3 linked regions of the Homo sapiens genome follow. The protein of the gene in region 2 interacts with the protein of the main gene of each other region in a pairwise test. Each region holds a gene or a part of one and is shown on either strand. Other genes may lie near its edges.

What was found. Proteins that work in one complex are often made in the same cells at the same time.
Region 1: the proteins of SFXN3 (region 2) and ZDHHC15 interact in binary tests that used the Homo sapiens proteins (3 or more experiments, as listed by UniProt).
Region 3: the proteins of SFXN3 (region 2) and TMEM51 interact in binary tests that used the Homo sapiens proteins (3 or more experiments, as listed by UniProt).

The regions. Positions count from the first base shown.
Region 1 is NC_000023.11:75,415,038-75,422,738, reverse strand, and holds part of ZDHHC15 (palmitoyltransferase ZDHHC15), read left to right. Parts: intron 1-748; coding exon 749-875; intron 876-5,548; coding exon 5,549-5,652; intron 5,653-7,701. UniProt on the Homo sapiens protein: Palmitoyltransferase that catalyzes the addition of palmitate onto various protein substrates.
Region 2 is NC_000010.11:101,033,367-101,041,770, reverse strand, and holds the end of SFXN3 (sideroflexin-3), read right to left. Parts: intron 7,080-8,404; coding exon of another isoform or gene 7,077-7,079; coding exon 6,916-7,076; intron 6,275-6,915; coding exon 6,104-6,274; intron 5,828-6,103; coding exon of another isoform or gene 5,769-5,827; coding exon 5,670-5,768; intron 5,286-5,669; coding exon 5,210-5,285; intron 5,105-5,209; exon of another isoform or gene 5,049-5,104; coding exon 4,963-5,048; intron 4,696-4,962; coding exon 4,568-4,695; intron 4,390-4,567; coding exon 4,340-4,389; coding exon of another isoform or gene 3,998-4,339; exon of another isoform or gene 3,401-3,997; intron 3,129-3,400; coding exon 3,079-3,128; intron 2,597-3,078; coding exon 2,549-2,596; intron 2,283-2,548; coding exon 2,186-2,282; 3' UTR 530-2,185; downstream 1-529. UniProt on the Homo sapiens protein: Mitochondrial serine transporter that mediates transport of serine into mitochondria, an important step of the one-carbon metabolism pathway.
Region 3 is NC_000001.11:15,212,046-15,219,746, reverse strand, and holds part of TMEM51 (transmembrane protein 51), read right to left. Parts: intron 4,853-7,701; 5' UTR 4,660-4,852; coding exon 4,316-4,659; intron 422-4,315; coding exon 4-421; 3' UTR 1-3.

The sequences.
Region 1 (7,701 bases), on a different chromosome or scaffold from region 2:
AGATTAGCACATTTGGCTTAGAGACCAGCTACGAAGTGGAAAACCACTAAAAGCTTCATGATAACAGAGTCTGAAAACAAAGAACAAATGAGAAACAGTCAGATGCAGCTAGAGTCCAACAGTGAAATCATTTACTTAATGGGATAAATGTGTGTCTAAAAATAATGTGCACTAACATGGTCCCATTCCTTACAGTCTTTGAAGTGATTATGGCTCACCAATTGACATTTTAGCTGAAGTAAAACTCAGTTTCTTACACTGCAGGCTTCAGCATGAACACTTTCATTTTTGAAATGTTTCAAAACCAAATCAATGTCATTACCATCTCTTTATGTGTCATTACTTTCTTCCCAGCTCTAAAGATGGTGGTCATTCGGCTGTTGTTGCCGCTTAGATTCAAATAAAGTGCTGTTAAATCTGTTCCTATATTCTAAATTCAGCAGTACAAAATACATACTACCCCCGTGGCTGCTTAATTATTTCTGCCACCATGTGTTTCCCCTGTCTTTTAAAAAGAGAGTTCTAATTCTTTATATGCAGTAACAAGTTTAGTTTGTGTGAAGTGATTAAACTGGTTTTTACTAAGCAATTTAGCAATACCTAAAAATGAGAGGTCTGTGCTACCACAGCAAAAAGATATAATAGAACCAAGTCACATACATGGAGAAATGTAAAATCATGACTATGCTGAAATTTGTTTCTTTATTGCTTTCTTCCTCTTTTCTTCAACTCTCCTGCCCTGCCTTAGAGGCCTTCTGCACTCCAGTGTTTACAAGTGGCCCAGAGAAAAATGGGTTCAACCTTGGCTTCATCAAGAATATCCAGCAGGTGTTTGGAGATAAGAAGAAGTTCTGGTTAATACCTATTGGTTCCAGGTGAGTAAATATTACCACTGGAAGAAGTTAGTACTGGACCCTGCCTTGAACCAGCAAATTCAATTTTGATTGTAGTATGCAGCAGGTATCAGTCCAGTGTGAAACTCTATTCCCCAAGTTCTTCATTTCTAGGTTAATAAAGGCAAATAAAGAGGTGAGGGTCTGATAAAATAGATATTCTCATGCTTTCTTTGTGGCAGTGTGCAGTGGCACTACCAATCTTTTATAACTGAATTTGGTAATATCTATCAAAAAATTTAAGAATCTACTTGCCCAACATCCCAGTAATTCCATTTCTGGGAATTGAATCTACCCTAAAGACAGAGACAAACTATGCACAAAAATGTTCATCACAGCATTATTTATAGCCAATAATTAGGAAACAACCTAAACAGCCAACAATATGGGAATATATATATATAATATATATTATATATATATTATATATATATTATATATATATAATATATATATATACACACATACTGGATGGAATATTATACAATCAAAAGTAATGGTTATAAAGACTATGTCACAAAAAGGGAAAGTGCTTACTATATTTTAAGTGAAAAAAGAAAAATCCAATACACTGTGATTAAAAACATAAGTATATATAGAAGAAAAACAGCAGAAGAGAAATATACCAAAAAATGGTAAAAATGGTACTATATTTTAAGTGAAAAACGAAAAATTCAATACACTGTGATTAAAAACATAAATATATATAGAAGAGAAGCAGCAGAAGAGAAATACACCAAAAAATGTTAAAAATGGTAAGGGCAATAGTCTTAGAAATTATTTATATTTTCTCCATTTTATATATTTTGTGGTTAATACTAATATTATTTTATGAATAAAAATATGAAAAGCAAGAACAAAGATTAATTTGAGGTTGTAGGTAATTCTTTTTTTATTATACTTTAAGTTCTGGGGTACATGTGCAGAACATGCAGGTTTGTTACATAGGTATGCACGTGCCATGATGGTTTGCTGCATATCAACCCATCATCTACATTAGGTATTTCTCCTAATGCTATCCCTCCCCTAGCTCCCCACCCCAGGACAGTCCCTGGTGTGTGATGTTCCCCTCCCTATGTCCATGTGTTCTCATTGATCAACTCCCACTTATGAGTGAGAACATGCGGTGTTTGGTTTTCTGTTCTTGTATTAGTTTGCTGAGAATGATGGTTTCTAGCTTCATCCATGTCCCTGTAAAGGACATGAACTCATTTTTTTGATGGTTGCATAGTATTCCATGGTGTATATGTGCCACATTTTCTTTATCCAGTCTATCATTGATGGGCATTTGGGTTGGTTCCAAGTCTTTGCTATTGTGAACAGTGCTGTAATAAACATACGTGTGCATGTGTCTTTATAGTAGAATGATTTATAATCCGATGGGTATATACCCAGTAATGGGATGGCTGGGTCAAATGGTATTTCTAGTTCTAGATCCTCGAGGAATTGCCACACAGTCTTCCACAGTGGTTGAACTAATTTACACTCCCACCAACAGTATAAAAGCGTTCCCATTTCTCCACATCCTCACCAGCATCTGTTGTTTCCTGACTTTTTAATGATTGCCATTCTAACTGGCATGAGATGGTGTCTCATTGTGGTTTTGATTTGCATTTCTCTAATGACCGGTGATAATGGGCTTTTTTTAATATGTTTGTTGGCCACATAAATGTCTTATTTTGGGAAGTGTCTGTTCATATCCTTTGCCCACTTTTTGATGGGGTTGTTTGGTTTTTTCTTTTTTTTATTATACTTTAAGCTTTAAGGTACATGGGCACAACGTGCAGGTTTGTTACATATGTATACATGTGCCATGTTGGTGTGCTGCACCCATTAACTCATCATTTAGCATTAGGTATATCTCCTAATGCTATCCCTCCCCCCTCCCCCCACCCCACAACAGACCCCAGTGTGTGATGTTCCCCTTCCTGTGTCCATGTGTTCTCATTGTTCAATTCCCGCCTATAAGTGAGAACATGCGGTATTTGGTTTTTTGTCCTTGTGATAGTTTGCCGAGAATGATGGTTTCCAGCTTCATCCATGTCCCTACAAAGGACATGAACTCATCATTTTTTATGACTGCATAGTATTCCATGGTGTATATGTGTCACATTTTCTTAATCCAGTCTATCATTGTTGTACATTTGGCTTGGTTCCAAGTCTTTGCTATTGTGAATAGTGCCGCAGTAAACATACGTGTGCATGTGTCTTTATAGCAGCATGTTTTATAATCCCTTGGGTACATACCCAGTAATGGGATGGCTGGGTCAAATGGTATTTCTAGTTCTAGATCCCTGAGGAATTGCCACACTGACTTCCACAATGGTTGAACTAGTTTACAGTCCCACCAACAGTATAAAAGTGTTCCTATTTCTCCACATCCTCTCCAGCATCTGTTGTTTCCTGACTTTTTCATGATCGCCATTCTAACTGGTGTGAGATGGTACTCATTGTGGTTTTGATTTGCATTTCTCTGATGGCCAGTGATGATGACCATTTTTTCATGTGTCTTTTGGCTGTATAAATGTCTTCTTTTGAGAAGTGTCTGTTCATATCCTTCGCCCACTTTTTGATGGGGTTGTTTGTTTTTTTCTTGTAAATTTGTTTGAGTTCATTGTAGATTCTGGATATTAGCCCTTTGTCAGATGAGTAGATTGCAAAAATTCTCTCCCATTCTGTAGATTGTCTGTTCACTCTGATGGTAGTTTCTTTTGATGGGGTTGTTTGTTTTTCTCTTGTAAATATGTTTAAGTTATTTGTAGATTCTGGATATTAGCCCTTTGTCAGATGGATAGATTGCAAAAATTTTCTCCCATTCTATAGGTTGCCTCTTCACTCTAATGAGAGTTTCTTTTGCTGTGTAGAAACTCTTTAGTATAATCAAATCCCATTTGCCAATTTTGGCTTTTGTTGCCATTGCTTTTGATGTTTTGTTCATGAAGTCTTTGCCCATGTCTATGTCCTGAATGGTATTGCCTAGGTTTTCTTCTAAGGTTTTTATGGTTTTATGTCTTACATTTAAATCTTTAATCCATCTTGAGTTAATTTTTGTATAACGTGTAAGGAAGGTATCCAGTTTCAGCTTTCTGCATATGGCTAGCCAGTTTTCCCAACACCATTTGTTAAATAGGGAATCCTTTCCCCATTGCTTGTTTTTGTCAAAGGTCAGATGGTTGTAGATTTGTGACGTTATTTCTGAGGCCTCTGTTCTGTTCCATTGGCCTATATATCTGTCTTCATATCAGTACCATGCTATTTTTGTTACTGTAGCCTTGTAGTATAGTTTAATTTGCGGTTGTAGGTCATTCTTAGAACTGCAACAATTATGCAGGGAAAGTAGTGGATGAGAAATAAACAGTCAAGCTTGTGTTCTCTGAATGACTTTGTGAACCAGATTGAACCACCATCAACTAAACTAGTTCTAGAGCAGAGCTTGCTTATAGCCTTCTTGCAGCCACTTTTCAGTCCCCTCCTTAGACAGGAATACACTCATGTTCACTTAGTTGAGGTAACTTTGTTGGGGGTAGGGTGGTAATTATGGAAAAATTTCTCCTTGATTGATTGCCTTGATACTTCCTGTGTAGCAGTTAGTATTTTAAAGACTCATGTATTTCAGAGATGTGGTGTATCCAACTAACCTGTCTATAAATCACAAGGCAAAACTATGTCAGTGGGTAATATTGATTAATAACTGTTACCAGATATTACCTATACCCTATTCACATACTCACATACACAAATATCCACACATCATCACCACATCAAAGGGAGATGTAAAATCAGTCTTCTCTGGAATAAAGAACAAAACCAAAAATCAAAGCCCATTCATTTATAATCAGTACACTTACATTCTCTTTAGAGTGCTATCAATAAAATCTGTCAAATTTCAATTTACCACATACATGAACAGGAGAAAAGGCATAGGTAACATCAAAAGTCATTCAGACTCAAATGTGGAATGCATTCAGATACCTAAACTGAAATGTTCAAACTGTAGCCTCTTCTAGCCAGGGCCAGCTCAGTTCCCTCCAATGCATCCCATCTGTTAGTGGCCAGAAATTACCCAAGGAGTTGACCCTAGCTTACCACAGGTAGCCACAAAGCGAGACCCCACATGTGGATAATTGCCCTGAAAATCTGCAGTCTAGAGATGGCTCACTCTGGCTCTTTCCCCTAGTTCCTAATAACCTTTCTGCCATGCACACCAAATAAATAACAGTGCATTTGCGCATTGTCTTTCACCAATTCACACCAGCTTATCTCCACTGTATTTAGTGTTTCAGAGACTGGTCATCTTTCTTGAAAACTTAGAATCAAAGCAGTGAGATAATTGGATATAAATTGGTATCATCATCATTAAGTGATATGTATGAAGCTTGCTGTGTGTGCATATTGCCATACTGGGCATTTTGGGAAGCAAACTATAGAGTTCTTACAAACAAGAAGTTAACACTGATGCAGACACACAAATAAGATATGGAAATCGAGAGCAATATAGCAACTAAATAATGCTATTGTAAGAGCCCATTCCACCATGGCTTTAGACAATGAGACTAAATATGGCTAAGAACCCCCCTCTTGTTTTTAAGAGGATTATAACCTTCACAAAAGTCTATGTCAGCTGCAATAGGTCACTGCCTTTCTTTTCCCATCAGCCCTGGTGATGGACACTCCTTCCCTATGAGGTCTATGAATGAGTCACAGAACCCACTGCTAGCAAATGAAGAAACCTGGGAAGACAACGAGGATGACAACCAAGGTAAGTGGGGTCAAAGACTATGAAGTCCACATTAATACAACCAATGTAATGTGGTGAGTAAATAGTGTCCAGAAAGATTTTATAAGCATGTCAACCTCATAAGTGTCCTCTGGATGGTGGAGAGCAAGTATGGCCATATTTGTTTAGTAACCATGGGTAGTTTAGATAAGATTAGATTGCAGCTTGGGAGGCTCCTTACCAGCTTTGTGATTCTGTGATTTATATTACCAGTCAGATATACATCTGGATATATATGGATTTCTAAACAATCCTGCTGGGTAGTCACTTGTAGTACTTTGCTTGAATGTGGAGTTCAATTTAATCAATGGGCAACATTGCACCTTTCTCCATCCTCTTTCATTCACATTGGTTAAATTTTCTTTAAAATCCTATACTCACTCTCTTTTTAGAATGGTTTCAATACACTAAAAACTAAAAGATAGTAATGGGGCAAGCCTACACATGCATGTAGTCTACTTTTCTAAAAGGAAGAGGGGCAAAGGAAAATAAGCTTCAACTTTCTCCTACCAGGTCACTGGGTCATCCTAAGGCATTTTGTAAAGAGCTAAAAGTTGAGTTCTCATATAATGTATCCCCATTGCCAGCCCTATTCCTTGTCTCCACCTGTTGCTGTGCCTACTTTTGTGTCTCCAACATTTACTTATGTTGCTAATACCAACCATTAGAAAGTAGTTTTGGCTACTGTTCCCAATAATGCAGTAGCTGGCAGCAATTTTGAGTAGGAACTTGTAGTAGCTATCACAAACTGTACCTGGGGTGAAGGAGGCTAAATGAAGACATGGAAAAGTATTGAAGTGGGAGCAGCGGTAGAGAACAAGCCTTTCTAATTTTTTACCCAGTTGGATTATCCAGGCCCTGATTACCAGGAAATCTAGTTTTAGAGAAAAGCATGTTACTAGGCCCAAGGAATACAAAACAGCCACAAATCCATAGATAAAAAAGAAAACAGTTATTGTCCATCCCAAAGAACTTACAAGGGCAACTCCCTTACTTCCTCCTGCTGACTATTGGAAAATTGACTATATTTTGACCTGTCTTCCTTCAGTCTTCAGTCTTTCTGAACTGACTTTTACTTACAGCAGTCACAAGTTATAACAACTCTTATTTTGGTATTAAACCCAAACTCTAATAGAAGCCAAATAATTATCAGGTCTTTACCTGGTTTGAAATAATTCACAATGAAAAAAGCTATTCATAGCTGAGCTTTGTGTTGGCAAGTGGAATACTTTAAATGTAGATATAGCATCACATCATAAAGAGGTTATATTTTGAAGCAGTCTCCAATTCCAGACCTTTTCAAAAATATTCAATCATTAAAAATTAGTATGTTATTTTATAGTTTACAAAGTGCTTTCCTATATTTTTTCTTCATATCCTTTGACCCTCACAACTTTCAGGTTAGATAGGCAGTGTTATTAATAGCATCCCTATTTTATAATTAAGAAACTAAAATTGAGAGATGTTAATCTCACATGTCAAGGTATCTTGATTCCAAATCCTAGTTTTTTTCCACTACAATGCTAGGTCTCTCCTTTGGACAAGTACATATGAGACACAGTGCTGTGATTGCATGCCATTTAGTGATCTGAAGCATTCAACTGCTTCTTACATAATCATAAAATCATAAACTGTAAGGTGCCTTTAGCTTTAGCAAGACCACTATGCCATCTTAGATAGCTGAGGGGTTTTTTTTAAGTTCATTGAAGGAGACTCCACAATCCTCCTTTGTAACCCATTCTAGTATCTAATGCAAGTTCTCATGCTGTGTTATTTGTTAGGTTGATTCTATGTTAACTTCAGTTGCTCCCATTTTCTGTGCATAACTGTCATAGACAAACAGTTCTTACATTTTTAACAACTTAGATTCCTAGGAAAGGTGCTGTAAGTTGAAATTACATGTGTGTATTTAAGTTAATTTCTTTTAGGAATCAAGTGGAATTTTTATTCCTAGCCCAAAATATAACATTTCATTTAGTATAAATGTGCTTGTATGGCCGGGCGCTGTAGCTCACGCTTGTAATCCCAGCA
Region 2 (8,404 bases):
AAGGCAGGTGGATGGCTTGAGCCCAGGAATTGGAGACCAGCCTGGGCAACTTGGCAAAAACCATCTCTATAAAAAAATACAGAAGATTAGCTGGGTGTGGTGGCACGTGCCTGTAGTCTCAGCTACTTGGTAGGCTGAGGCAGGCGGATCAATTGAACTGGTGAGGTTGAGGCTGCAGTGAGCTGTGATCCATGATGGTGCCACTGCACTCCAGCCTGGGTGATAGAGTGAAACCCTGTCGCAAAAAAAAAAAAAAAAAAAAAAAACAGAAAGAAAGAAAAGAAAAGGAAAAAAAAAAAGGTGAAAGCATCTACATTCGCCCTCTGTCTTAGTACATACTTGGGGGTGCCAGAGGGAGGACTGATTTTCTAATCTCAGAGCTCCCTCTGCTGGGGCATGAGGCTCCCTACACAGGGGGAGGAATGAGACAAGACCTGGACTTGGGGAGAGTCCAGGGAGAGACGGAAGGCTGCAAGCAGGGGACTCTTTCTGGGCCCTCAGGACGTGGAATCAAGTGAAGACCAAGAAGTAGACAAGTTTGCAGTTTATTGAGTAATGGCTGGCTTCACAGATGTTATCACTGGGGGCGGTTGATAGGGGGAACAGGAAAATGCTCTCAGAGGTTCCCACTGAAGCCCTTTCATCTGCCCTGCCCCACCCACCACTGAAGCCAGAGGTCATGGGAGTTGGGATCTAACTACACTCTGTGAACTTACCACCACCCATTCCATCCCCAAGCCCATATTTTATTTGGACTAGCCACTGATGCCCGGGCCCTTCCTCTTCCAGGGGGTGGGAGGGTGGAGGTGGGGACAGGACCAACCCTCAAGAAAGAAAAGAGGTTAAGGTGGGGGTTTTGCTGAATGTCTAAGAAATGTCAGTGGAACAGGCTGGGCACAGTGGCTCATGCTTGTAATCCCAGTGCTTTGGGAGGCCAAGGCAGGTGGATCACCTGAGGTCAGGAGTTCGAGACTAGCCTGGCCAACATGGTGAAACCCCCATCTCTGCTAAAAATACAAAACTAGCAAGATGTGGTAGCACACACCTGTAATTTCCACTACTCGGGAGACTGAGGCAAGAGAATCACTTGAACCCAGGAGGCAGAGGTTGCAGTGAGCCAAGATCGCACCATCGCACTCCAGCCTGGGCAAAATAGTGAAACTCCATTAAAAAAAAAAAAAAAAGTCAATGGAACACAAAATTCCCTGTCTTAACATTGTACATTCGGGGCCTAGCTGCCCTTGAGGATGTCCTAGTTACACCCTCTCTGATACCTGTGGAGTTTAAGCACCATTCCTACCGCTGTGTCCCTTGGGAGGGGGTGCAGTGGAAGCTCTTAAAGGGGAATGCTTGCTCTGCCTCTGTGGCTTTTTGTTTGGGAAAGGGAGTTGGGATTGGAGGATTTAGATTTGAGGTCATGATGTCAGAGCACACCAGGAACTCCCAAGGCTGTGCCTGAAGATGCCCACGCTGTCAAGTAGGGTGGTGGGGGAGACAGCGAGGGCAGTACAGGACACAGGCACTCCTTTGTCTGGTAGAGAGGAGGAGGGGAAATGGAGCTATTCCAGGATACAAGGGATGGCACTGAGGGATGCATAAGTCCCCTGCCTCCCTTGTCTCAACATGTTCTCCTCTGCCAGCCCAGTCAGCTTGGGGAGCTAGGTATCAGAAACCTGAAGGATTCAGCCCGCTTTGTCCTACTAGTGTCTATAAGTCTCTGTCCTGAGATCCTGGGGCTCCTCCTATTTCTAGAAGGGATGAGGTGCCATCAAAAATAACTTGGCTGGTGTAACAGTTTAGAGAAGGAAGTCACACCTGTAGCCTGGCTGGCAGGCAGGTGGACATGAGGCTGAGAAGGGAAGCCAGATGTCAGAACATACTAGGCTAGCATGCCTGCTTCTAGCTTTCAGGACCCAATGTACACATACACATGTGTATCATGTATGTATATGCATGGACACTCAAGCACAGGAGGGGTTATGTGCTCTGATCTTTGAAACCAGAGAAGGGAGGAAAAGCCTTATGGAGGTCCCTCCCCCACCCTAATAGGTTGCTACCCTCAATTGCCATCTGCCCACCAAGGCCCCTGCCCAGTGCTAGGCAGATAGCCAAGTGGTAGGGGTGACATGACTCCACTAAAGCAGCAGCCCAAGGAAGTGAGGGAGGGGACAGAGGCTGACCCTCCTCAAAGCCCCTTGTTGTAGTAGACCACTTCAACGCTGGGGTTTTGCTCATGGATCTGAGCTCTCAGCTCTGGTTCCAGGTTGCTTATGTGTATGGAGCTGCAATAGAACAGCACAGGCCAGTTAACGTCCCCTGAATCCAACCCCACTCAGGCCCAGGGATTGCCATCCCACCTCCTCCCAGGCTGAAAAATCCTCTCCTTCTACTGCCAGAAGGACTGGCTCACTGTCATTCCCCCACTCCCAGAATCAGTGGAGTGCCTGCCAGGCCTCCTCCTGAACACCCTGGAAGACCCTAGGTCAGCTGGTCCAGAGATGCAGAGTCCAATCCAGAGTCCCCCACCCAGCCCAGGGACAGCACTTACCTCTTCTGGGGGAATAGGGCACAGCACAGGGGGGTTGCAAATACCAGGCTGGGGGAGACAAGTGTTGGAAAGGTTTGTAAAGCTTTGGCCTTAGGGTGTTCCCTCCCTGCACCCCACCCCATCCTTGGAGATAGGCCCTAGGGGTGGAGATTGATAAAAGCTGAAAGGACCTTTTAGGAATAGTAAACCCAACCTGGACATCAGGTTCTGAGGAAAGAGAGCCCCACAACCAGTAAGTGGCAGAATCAGGAATTAAATGGGCATGAATCTCCTGGATGGCACCAAAAGGTACATTTCCATGGTTTCCTCTTATAGATGAAGACTGGAACCCCCTCACTAGGATCTTGACCTTCAAGGACAGGGACCACCCCGTAACACACAAAGTAGACCCTATAGTTGTTCCAAACACACACCCACTGAATGTATGAATGGATGATGTCTATAAACATCTTAAAGACAATCCATACCCACCCACATCCACCATGGACAAGGCACTCCCACACACCCCAGCTAACTCCTTGCACACTTACCAGAAGCCCACCAGTCCCACCTGCAGGGGTGCCCCCAGCCAGGGGCGGCGCTGTGGAGAGACAGAAAGACAATGGAACGGCTTGTGTCCCCTGCCTCACTGTCACCCCATTTCACCCACCATAGCTCTATCCCATCAGCCTTGCCTTGGAGCCCTTAGACCTGTGGCCGTTTTCTTTCTCCCAAGGCAATGACAGGGCTGGGACCTCCAGATCACGCCCTTCCACTCCAGCCAGGCCTGTCTGCTGATCACCCTCCCCGGCATCCCATGACCTCTCACCTCTCAGAATTGGTTGCCATGGCACTCCCTGGCCCTTTTTTTTCTTCCCTCACTTCCTCCAGGAGCTGATTTCTTCAGGAAACCTCCTGTGAACCTCCACTTACCTCTTCCCATCCCAGTGGCATGAATCTGACCCTTTCCAAGCACATCTCTTCCTCGGCACTCTTCTCAATTTGCTCTGGCCACAGGGACCACCAACCTGTTCCTCAAATGTGCAAGCCCCTCCTACTGCAGTGCCCTTGCACTGACTGTTTTCTGTACCCCAAACACTCTTCTCTGCGTTATTTGGCTCTCTCCTCATCCTTTGCGGCATTAAAGACCCCTTCTCTGATCATCCTATCTAAACAGCTCTCCCCCATGAATCTCAATTACACTACCCCCATTGCTTTCCTACAAAGCACATATTACACTTTCTAAGAATGTATTTATTGGGTGCCTCCTTGTTTATTGGTTTCTGCATCAGACTATAAACTTCATGAGGACAGGGGCCATAACCATTGTGTTCAGTGCCATCTCCTCAGCCCTAAAACATGCCTGGTGCATGGCACTCAATACATTTGTGAATAAATGATTCTGTGAATGAGCCAGAGCTTGTTCCTGTGCTTTGCTTTCGTGTCCTGTTCATGTCTGTGTGTGCGTGTTCACCCGTGTGTACCTCTCAGTATGGAGGCACTAGGGGGTAAAAGAATGAGCATGAGATCAAGCATGACTATGACAGTCCCCTTCTGTGTGTCAGAAGCCACTGGAGTAACACTGATGAAGTTGGTTTCCTTCCTTTGTCCTCTCCTCCTGCCCCTGCAGAGTTCCTTCACCCCAGCCCAGTTCATTCTTGCTGAATGAACGAAGGTGGAGGAGGCGGTGCAGGGGTCAGGAGAAGGGCTGGCAAGTCTTAGAGAATCAGGCGAGGCTGGAGAGAGAGTTGGGGCCTGGTCACTTCTCCCAGCCATCGCCCATTCCAGGACAAGAGAGGTACAGTCGCCTACCTTCAGGAAGTCTTTCTTCTCCAGAGTGTCCATGATCAGTGGTGGGATGGCTGTGGGGAGAGCAGGGCCAAGAAGGAGAACATTAGTAGTGGAGTTAAAGTCAGGAACTGTGAAGGGTGACCCCCCTCAAAGCTCCTCCCTCTCTCCCCAGAGTCCTCCAAAGTCCCTGAGAACTGCACCTGCTTCTCTCAGAGTCTCCTATGCCCCACCCAGCCACTCCCGCCTTACCCATGGCAGGAATCGCCATGCAGATTCTTGAAATCACCACCTGGAAGATTCCCTGCTTGGCTGCAGTCACCGAGTAGCCAAGCCTCTGACCTGCCTCATCAGCCACCGGGATGCCCACCTGCAGCTCTCTGCAAGGGAGGGGGGTTGGGGTCAGATCACAGGCCCCGGATCCCACCTGCAATGCCCGAATGAGCAGCGGCTCCTCAGGGTCCCCTCACACACCCCAGGCTCAAAGGCTGGTTCTCCCACCTGAGGATCCCAGGGTCAGACTGAGCCAGGGCCCAGCAGCTCATGTCTGGGGAGGGAGAGGGATGTCCCCATTCTGAGGTGGTCTGCGTGGATGGACAGTGTGCTACATTCTGGGCATGCACATGCCAGGAGCCGGGGTCACTCACCTCTGCCTCATCAGGGGGATGTTGATGCAGTTGGCAGCTGCCACTGCTGCAAAGGGCACAAATCTGCCGACCAAGGGGGGCAGGTGCTGGGGAGGAAGGGTGTTGTTCAGTGGCCCTAAGGGCCATGGGGTGGTGAGGGACTCTGGGGAGATATAGGGGGCATATAGGTCAGAACTGGAGGTGTGATGAGGAAGAAGGAGGCAGATAGAGGATGAATGGGGTGGTCAGGGGAGTGAGGGGCCTTTACCTTGGTGAGGGATTTGAGTCCCAGGGCCGTGGCCACAGCTCCAGTGGTGGCACTCACATAGGCTGTCCCCAGCTGCCTGTGGGTGGAAAAGCCAGGTCACGGGGAGAGGTGACAAGTCCAGCAGGTGGCCCTTTCCTTTAGGGATATGCCAAGTCCTCAATACATGAGGCATAAAAGGGGAAGCTCCTTGCAGAAGAAGCCTTCCCTCCATCTCCGGCGTAAACTTGTCTAGAAGCCCCAGTAGCACCCTGTGAAGAGGGGTGGGTCCCCCACAGCATACATAAGAGGACCTCATGCCTTCAGTTAGGCAGGGTAATTCGGGGTGGGGCAGGCTGAGGAGAGGGCGCTGAGCACTGGCTGCATGGTCCACAGGGAACCGGAGAGAAAGGAGAGGGCACTGCAGGCTGGGAGGAGAGGGTCAGATGGGACAGTGCAGCTGCTGCTGGGGGCTGGCTCTCACCTCACAGTGATGGGAGTGTCACCACTGCGGTTGGAGTAGTTAACAATGGCATTGAAGGACTGATTCACCCACTGCCAGAACACCACGGTTGGGGTCTTCCTGAGGGAACAAAGACACTCACTTCTGCCCCGTCTACAGTGGCCCTCATCTTTAGACCCCTGTAATGAAACCAAAGGTTATTCCCCAAGCCTAAGAAGGGACCCAGTTAATGGCCCTAGAACCTGTTCTGGTAACCCCTATGTACCCCCACCCCCATTTATACAAACACACCTACTGTCTCTGGGGTGAGAGACCTCCTGAGGCTGAATTCTGAGGAATGGAAGCGATTCTGACACAATCTTTCACTCACCCAGTTGGCCCAGACAAGAAGCGCACCTAGTCAAGCTATGCTCTAGCTTAGGGCACTGAAGAAGGGGACGTGGGACAAGACCTGCCTGTAGAATGTGAGCATGCAGCCAGTGATGGTCATGTTCATGGGCACCTGGGCTGACATGCGGCCAATCAGGACCACCTTCTCCCCTGTGTCCGGATGGAAGGCGGAGTCATACACATACTTGGCCCTCCACAGCTGGTCCTCGGTGATCCCTGGGGTCACCACGCCGGCCCTGCAGAAGTTGGCAAGGAGCAGACAGGCTATGCCAGGGGGCAGATCTGCCCTCACAGGCCCCACCTGCCCAGCTCAGGGTAACTCTGGACAGAGAACCAGGAACTTCAGCCCCCAGTCTCAGCATAAGGAAGCTCCTTATCTTTGGGAGAGGGCCAAAGTTTCCCAGAAGTGGAGGCTCCTATTTCTATTTCCCTTATAGCCACACAAAGAGGGGTACCCTTCTGTTTCTGCCAAAATGCTGGGTCAGGGATGATGGTGGTTTCCAGTGGGTCAAAAATGGCTGCAAGCATTGCAAGAGTTTTTCCTCCCAAAGATAAGGGGATTTCCCTCCTATCTTCCTGGGACTCCACTTTGAGCACCTCTATCCTTGCAGAGGGTGACCCCGCAATGGGATAGATCCCTGTAGAGGTTTGTGATGCATAGAGCAGCCCCTCCCATAAATATCAATGCCATCTTCTCAACCCAAATGCCCTAAAATCCTTTGGGTTAAAGCTCTGTGATGCCAACAGACGGGGCTAGAGAGTGAGGGGATTGAGGGACAGGGTCACTGTCAAGCTTGAGGAGGCAGGTACAAAACATATTATATTAATCACAGAAAATGAGATCCTGGCACACAGGGTCAGATTGAGGGGTGGTCACCTGTAGTTCTGCACGATGTTCCGAGAAGCTTCCAGCTGTGCCCCGGACAGCAGCAGATTTCGAGGATCAGTAACAGTGAAAAAGTGCCGGGCTCTGCCCAGGAAAGTACTTTGGTCCCAGCGAGGTTCCTGGATGTTGATGTCTAAAGGCAATTCACCCATTTTCTGCAGGACAGAGATAAGGGTCAGAGCGGGAGTCCAAGGGTCCAAGGGCTCCAGCTAGGGGAAATCTTTGGTGCCCCTGCCCTGGCCCCTGAGCTTATCATCAGTCCCTTCAAGAGCTCAAGGTGACTAGATGTAGGGAAAAGAAAGAGAGATCAGACTGTTACTGTGTCTATGTAGAAAGGAAAGACATAAGAGACTCCATTTTGAAAAAGACCTGTACTTTAAACAATTGCTTTGCTGAGATGTTGTTAATTTGTAGCTTTGCCCCAGCCACTTTGCCCCAGCACTTTGACCCAATCTGGAGCTCACAAAAACATGTGTTGTATAAAATCAAGGTTTAAGGGATCTAGGGATGTGCAGGACGTGCCTTGTTAACAAAATGTTTACAAGCAGTATACTTGGTAAAAGTCATTGCCATTCTCTAGTCTCAATAAACCAGGGGCACAATTAACTGCGGAAAGCCACAGGGACTTCTGCCCTTGAAAGCGGGGTATCGTCCAAGGTTTCTTCCCATGCATAGTCTGAAATATGGCCTCGTGGGATGAGAAAGACCTGACCGTCCCCCAGCTTGACACCCATAAAGGGTCTGTGCTGAGGTGGATTAGTAAAAGAGGAAAGCCTCTTGCAGTTGAGATAGAGGAAGGCCACTGTCTCCTGCTTGCCCCTGGGAACTGAATGTCTCCATATAAAACGCGATTGCACATTTGTTCAATTCTGAGATAGGAGAAAAACCGCCCTATGGTGGGAGGTGAGATATGTTTGCAGTAATGCTGCCTTGTTATTCTTTACTCCGCTGAGATGTTTGGGTGGAGAGAAACATAAATCTGGCTTACATGCACATCTAGGCATAGTACCTTCCCTTGAACCTAATTATGACATAGATTCTTTTGCTCACATGTTTTTTGCTGACCTTCTCCTTATTATCAACCTGCTCTACTACTACATTCCTTTTTGCTGAAATAATGAAAATAATAATCAATAAAAACTGAGGGAACTCAGAGACCGGTGCCGGTGCAGATCCTTGGTATGCTGAACGCCGGTCCCCTGGGCCCACTGTTGTTTCTCTATACTTTGTCTCTGTGTCTTATTTCTTTTCTCAGTCTCTTGTCCCACCCTACTAGAAATACCCACAGGTGTGGAGGGGCAGGCCACCCCTTCAACTAGGTAGGTAAGCAAGGGTGTGGGGAGGAGCTGTTTCCTGGGCAATGTCCCAGCCCAGGGACCTGCAGCCACTGGAGGAGGGGGAAGGGAAGACCAGAAACAGGAAAACAGATCTCCTTGTGCTCTATCCTGGTACAGATTTTCATGAGTGAGGATTTACATAT
Region 3 (7,701 bases), on a different chromosome or scaffold from region 2:
CATTCAGTCGGGCGGCCGGGTGTCGGGGGCCTTCTCCTGGACTTCATCATACTGCGGTGGAGGAGTCAAAGGCTCTATCGAGGGAGGAGGGACGTTTTTGTCTGGGAGGTTGATCCTAAAGTCTTTGAGGTGAAGCTTTTCAGATTTAATCCTTCGAACTTTCAGCGGTTTCAGTCGTTTGGCCAACTTAGAGTTCTGCCTGTCAGGGGGGTTCCCAGGGCTGGCCTCCACGTCAGCCCTGGTGGATGTGGGGGTGGTCTCGTCGAGCCCCGTCAGTGACTCATAGGACGGGAGAGAGATGCTCAACCTCGGGTTCTGCTCCTCTCCCCTTGCTTCTGAGTAGTTTGTGTTCATCACTTCCTCGTAGCTGGGAACATAGTACCTTGAGGCAGCCTCCTCATCCTCCTCTTCTTCCTCCTGGCTGCAAGAAGACACACAGACAGGGAGAGTGTTAGCCTGTGCTCAAGTCATTCAAAATCCCAAAGGGATGGGCTCCAAAGAGTCCACACACAGCAGCCTTGTAAATAACAAATGGGTCTTAGAGGCAATAAAAGTGAATACTTCAAGTGTTTACTATGAGCTGGGCTCCCTTCTAAGTATTTTAGCAAATATGAACCAATTTCAGATTCCTGACAACACTATGAGTTAAGTACTAGTCATGCAGGACAGGACAGGTGAGTCCCCAAATTGGGGCTTAGCCTGGGAGGGTTCTTGGCTTCATCAAGGAAGGAATTCAAGGGTGAGCCAGTGGTGTTAGACCACAATTCTTTATTGAAGGGCACTGCTTCTTGTGGAGCAGGGCTAACTCATAGGCAGTACACCCTGAGTTGGCCACATAGGGGCTCTTGGAAATTGTATTTATACCCACTTTTAGTCACATGCAAATTAAGGGGTGGGTTAATGCAAATTGAGGGGCAAGCTATTTAAGACTTCCTAGGAAAGGTAACTTCTGGGTCGTTACCATGGAAAGGGATGGTAACTGCCAGGTCGTTGTCATGGCAATTGTAAACTGTCATGGCACTGGTGAGAGTGTCCCATGCTGATGAGCAATGAGGGCAGCCAGGGATCACCCTCGTTCCCGTTTGCTGGCTTTGGCTAGTGTTTTTTTAAACCTTATCTCATCTGGACCACATCCTGTTTTGGTCAGCAGGGTTATGATCAGAAAACAAGTCCTGCCTGTTTTCTATCTCACTATTATTATAATACCCAATTTATAGATGGACTGAGATACATCAAGATTAAATGACTTGGTCAGACCTTCAGGAAATGGGAGGGCAGGAAGTGAACACTGTACTCTCAACTACTCCACCATGTTATCTGGGTGTTAAACCTCCTTTGCCTTTAAGCCTTTCCCACTTAGCGACATGCTGCGTGAGCTATTCCAATGCTCAGCTGGGTCCTTTGGTCAAAGGCAACACAGAAATGTACAAAGTTGCTACCAACTTTCAGTAGAGAAAGAATATCTGAAATATAACATTTATGTGTGTCTCAAATTATTCTGTAATTTTATCTTCCAAGTTTATCCCAAGACTCAAAAAGATCAGGTCCTCTCAGCCTTATTCTCATTTGACTGTTGAAAGAGAAAACCAAAAAGTCAGGATATTTTCTACACATTTGTCAGAATTAACGCCAATAGCCACTTTCCAGGACTCTATACTTGAACCTGTGGGGTGATCATGGCCAACATCAGAAACCTCAAAGTCTGCCTTGGTTTTCCTCCCACCCTCCTTTAGGAATGAACTCAAATGTGCTCACAGCTAGGGTGGGGAATGATGAGTGATTGATATTTGTTCTTTTCTATATTTCTCAAGTTTTCTAGAATAAGCATGTGTGATGGTTAATTTTAGGTGTCAACCTGACTGGCCATGGTTGCCCATATTAAACACTGTGAGAGTGAGGGTGTTTCTGGAAGATACTAGCATTCAGCTCGGTGGGCTCTGTAAGGCAGATTCCCCTCCTCAGTGTGGTGGCACCATCCAACCCATGGAGGCCCTAGATAGACCCAAAGTCAGAGCAAGCAGGAATTTGACTCATTTCTCCCTGCCTCACTGCTTGAGCTGGGACATCTCATTTCATCTTCTCCTGCTCTCAGACTAGGATCTATACCCTCACCTCTCCTCGTTCTCAATCAGGCCTTCAAACTCAGAATGAATTATACCCCTTGCTTTCCTGGGTCTGCAGCTTACAGATGGCAAATTGTGGGACTTTTTGGCTTCCATGATCCCAGGAACTAATTCCTCATAATAAATCTCCATTTAAAAAAATATATATCCCCCTGGTTCTGTGTCTCTGGAGAACCCTGACCAATACAGCATATATTATTCTTTGCTATCAGAAAATGAGTTTAATTTGGAAATTGTATTTGTACCCACTTACACCCACTTTCAATTATGTGCAAAAGTAAGAAGTGGGTTAATGTAAATTGAAGGGCAAGCTATTTAGAACATTCTAGGAAAGGGATGGTAACTTCCAGGTCATTACCATGGAAAGGGGTGGTAACTGGTAACATTGGAGGGCAGAAATCCCTTCAATATAATGAGATTTTTTTTTCTTCTGGTGTGTACCCACAAGTGGCATTGCTGAATCATTTGGCAGCTCAATTTTGAGTTTTTTGAAGAAACTCTAAACTTCTCCACAGTGGTTGCACTAATTTACATTCCCACCATTAGTGTACCAAGGGTTCCCTTTAATCCATATTACATTAAGAACAATTCCCTTCCCACTATAAAGATAAGAAATGCTTGTAGAAAATTCAAACAACACAGAAACATCTAATGAAGAAAAGAAAAACATCCCGAATCCTTCTACCTGGAGACAAACCACTGTAACATTCTGGTGTATACCTTTCCTACCCCTCTCCAATCCCACAGCCACAACATTTGATGGGACCATAACCTGACCAAAGATGCTGTATTATATCCCCCTTTTCTCATTGTTGTGGATATGGTCCCACATTAACAAATATAGATCAACAGTTGCTGCATAGAACTCCATTGAATAGGTACGTCATTTAACTCAGTAGGTGGTTTTTTAGGTTGTTTCTAAGTTTTTGTTATCCTAAACAATGATCTGATAAATATACTGGTACAAACTCCTTTGCACCTGTGGGACTGTCTCCCAGGGATAAACTCTTATAAATAGGATCAATACGCACATCTTCAGTACTGCCCCTTATGGTGAAACTCTTAAGAAAGTTTCTATCAGTCAACATTTCATCAGCAATCCATCTTCCCTACAACTCTCCAACAGTAGGGGCTGTCTATCTTGATCAATATGATAGGCAAAAAAAAGAAAAGACATCTTTTTGCTTGCATTTCATGACTAATGAAGTTGAACATCTATTGGTTGAACATCTATGGAATATTCATAATCTTTGTCTGTTTCCTATTGGTATATTCATCTTACATATTCATTTCTAAGAGCTCTTTTTATAATAGGGATATCAACTATTATCATATCTTCCCCAATGTATCACTTATCTTTTAAATTTGTTGGTGGCATTTTTGCTCAAATGGAAAATTGCTTCCCAGCCATTTCAAATTAAAGCATACACACAGCATGCTGGGGTGAAGGGACAAGCAAATATGCTGGCCACCCCAGGCCCTGTTCAGTGACCCTGGGCGGGTCAAAATGCTGGTTCACTTAAGAGTAATGGCCTCCAGCTCCATCCAAGTTGCTGCAAAAGACAGTTTTTTGTTTTTGTATTTTTTTTTTTGAGACAGAGTCTCACTCTGTCACCCAGGCTGGAGTGCAGTGGCGGTATCTCAGCTCACTCACTGCAATCTCCACTCCCCTGGGTTCAAGCGATTCTCATGCCTCAGCCTCCCCAGTAGCTGGGACTACAGGCATGTGCCACCATGCCCAGCTAATTTTTGTATTCTTAGTAGAGACAGGGTTTCACCATGTTGGCCAGGCTGGTCTCAAACTCCTGACCTCAAGTGATCCACCTGCCTCGGCCTCCCAAAGTTCTGGAATTACAGGAGTGAGCCACTGCACCTGGCCCAAAAGACAGTATTTTGTTCCTTTTTATGGCTGAATAGTATTCCATGGTGTAAAAATCTATTGTAATAAAATTTTTAAAAAATCTTGGTTTACCTGTAATCCATTTGTACCATGCTATTTGGGAAGCTCTGGTAGAAAAGTCTAAAGTTATTTGTAAAATGATAAACCGTTTTGACAGAGGCGTCATGGGCGAACATGGGACAATAAAGCCTGTAGATGACAGTCTTTTCACCACGGAAAGGTGTGAACATGTGTGTGCATGCGTGCGTGCCCATCCCCGATCCGGGGAGGGAAGGGGACAGTCAGGCCTCACCTGTCTTCCTCCTGGGCGTGAGGCCCAGCGCCTGTCGGGTGCTGGACATGGGCCAGGTCCTCGCCCTGCCGCTGCTTCCTCTTATCCCTGATACTCAGGCAGATAGAAAGCAGCAGCAGCATCACCCCGGCCCCGACCAGCACGTAGGCCACAGAGAAGGTCTTGCTCTTGAGGATGCCGCCACCCACCTCGGTCTTGTTGCTGCCCTGAGCTGTTGGCTTCTCGGCCGCGCTGAAGCCGGGTACCAGGTTCCACATGGCCATGATCACCCCAAGGACCAGCATCCCCAGGCCGATGGCGGTCAGCGCATAGTGCGAGCCATTGGCCTTGGACTGGGCCATCATGTCAGTGGGAGGAGGGCGAGGCCCAGTTCCAAGAAAGAAAATAAATGTATACAAGGCAGCAGTCACAACAAAAACCCCTTAAATGCGCTCCACAAAATCTCTCGCCCCACACTAGAAAATATCAGCTGAACTCCTGCGGGATGGTTCCGAGCAATCGCGAGGCCTCCCGTGCGGATGGCTGCGGTGGAAGGGCCTGGAAGGAAAGCAGAAAGAGCAGAGAGGACGATCAGTTCCGATTCCAGACGCTTTGTGAATGTGGCGGCTCTGCTCTTGAAGGAGTTAGGCAGCAGCACCGAGCACGCCGGCTCTGGCTGGGCCTCGCCTTTGATGCATTCCAGATGTCTTACGTGCTCAGGCTCCTTGTGCGAGGCTGCGAGAAGGGAGGCCGGTCTGCCCAGCCCGCTACTCCCTGAAAAGGAAAAGCCAGACCTTTCCCTGCTGGAGGCCAGAAAGGTCGGAGCTCAGGTCATTAAAACATTGTGTGGAATTTAATGAAGTGCAGTAAAATCGTAGCTCTTGCTGGAGGCTGCTGGGAGAGTGAGCGATGGGATGAATGGTCCACAATCGATGGTTGTAACAGACTCACCTGGGGGACAGGGCCTCAGCCAATGGTATGACCAGGCCAAACAGCCTACTGTCATCTGTTCCCCACCCTCAATGGCTCCCTACTTCCTGCAGGAGAAAATCCAGCTTCTTAGAATGATGCTGCTCATGGTGGCCTTAGCCTGGCTCCTGCCTCTCCTACTGCATGTCTCAGCCTGCCTTTCTTTGCACTACCCACCCCCAACCACCCTCCAGAACATTTCTCTGGTCACCCATAGCTCAGATGCCCCTTTCATGTGCTCCCCAAATCCTCCAGCAACCACCGTGGTGAGTCTCTCTCTTCCCATGACCACATTGTCATCATCTCTAAGCCTGGCACACAGCAGGGACTCAAAAAATGTTTGCAGAGTTCATGCCTGTAATCCCAGCACTTGGGGAGGCCGAGGTGGATGGATCACGAGGTCAAGAGATCAAGACCATCCTGGCCAACATGGTAAAACCCCGTCTCTACTAAAAATACAAAAAAAAAAAAAAAAAAGGCTGGGTGCTGTGGCACGTGCCAGTAATCCCAACTATTTGGGAGGCTGAGGCAGGAGAATTGCTTGAACCTGGGAGATGGAGGTTGCAGTGAGCCGAGATTGTGCCACTGCACTCCAGCCTGGGTGACAGAGCAAGACTCTGTCTCGAAAAAAAAAAGTTTGCAGAGTCAATGTTGGATGAAATGAATGCAGGCCACATGAAGTCACCCAGCAAGACAAGCTTCTCTGAAACCACATCGAGTTCTCCCTTTGTTAAAAGGGACACAGGCCTGCACATTCTTCCTCTCCGCTCCTGTGCCCAGCTGGACAAAATAAACCTTCTTTCCACAAAGCAGCCCAGAGACCCTGCGCTAAAGGGAGCAGCCAGCGGTCCTGGGATTCCACAGCATTTGTTGGTTGAGAGCGAGCCAGAGAAGCAGTCACTCAAGGCTTTAGTTTAGAACATTCTCAAGGACTGAGGAGGAGGAGCAAGCAATGCCCCTTGCTAAACCTCTCCCCCATACATTATTCCTGTGACAGGAACTTTTGCAAAACAGTAAAATTTACAAGATGTTTAGCTGGGCAAGGACCTGTTTTCAATTCTGCATTTTTTCCAGTCTCTCCGAAAGGATGACTGACCAGGCTGCTTGAAATCTGATGCTGCGAAGATATTTTCTTGTGAAACCATGAGTTTATCTGAAATTGGCCACTTTGTTAAAAGAGACTCTAAAAATATTTGGAACAACATCCTTTATCAGCTTTAAGTCTGTTCCTTCTTTTTTTCACCCAACAAATATTTCTTGTGCATCTCACTACCTCCTAAGTAGCGAGTTAGGCACTGGAGAAACAGCAGTGAGCAAGTTAAGGATTAGCAGAGCTTCTAGGCCAGCAGGAAAATGATCTATAGGGAATACCAATAAAGTAAGAAGGAAGTACAGGAACTGTGGGATTAGACAGCAGGGTGTCCTAGCTCAGGGCTGTGGGACATACAGAAAGTCTATGTGGGAGAGGATTCCCACTGGCCTAATTGGGCCTGAACCCTGAATGCACAGCACTGTGTATGTGCACGTGCGTGAACGCACTGGCTCTGCTCTTGAAGGAGTTAAGAAGAAGCACCAAGGCACACTGGGGCATGAACACGTGTGCATATATGTTTATGCACACATGAGCACATGTGCATGCGTGCGAGCACCTATGTACATATGCATGCATATGTATGGAATATGAACAGGTAGGATGGGCATGTGTGTGGCGTGCAGGGCGCTGAACAGGGATCCCACTGCAGACAGCTGCGGTAGGACCAGATGGGACCGTACACAAGGATATTTATTTCTTACAGTATCACTCATGGCTGGCAAAAGGAAGGATGGGGGCTCTGGCAGCCTTAGGAATGCACCGGTTCTACCAAATGGATCTGGGACAAGGTCAGACTCGGAGGGTGGAGAAGTACACAGCCAGGGGGTTGTGCTGGAAGCAGGAGTGATGAAAATACCACGTTCTGAGCACATGCTAAGTGCCTGACAGGCAGGCCTTGTACGTGGGACGCTGAGAGTGTGGTTAGCAGACTAGTGATTTGAGCCGCTTTAACCCCCTCACTGCCTGCCCTCATTCGTTCTCCATTCCAGCTTTGCCTTATGCTGCACGAGAGAAAGACAGGCTCCAGATGTGAATCATGGGCAGAGATTAAAATGTCGGGATTAATACATTCTTTTTGTCTGATAAACTGTCAATGATTAAAAACAGGTGATAATACTCAGTGTGGGGAAAGGTATTGGGATGGCAATTTCATGGCATTTTTTTAGATGGCAAGTTTTGGCATTTATAGAACAAAAGTTTCAAAAATGTTTATACCCTTTGGCTCTATAATTCCAACTTCTAAGAATTATGTACAGAGATATCATCACAGCTTTATAGTGGTGAGAAGCTAGAAATTACTTCAATAGCCAATAATCCAGATCAGGGTAATAAATTATGGTTCACG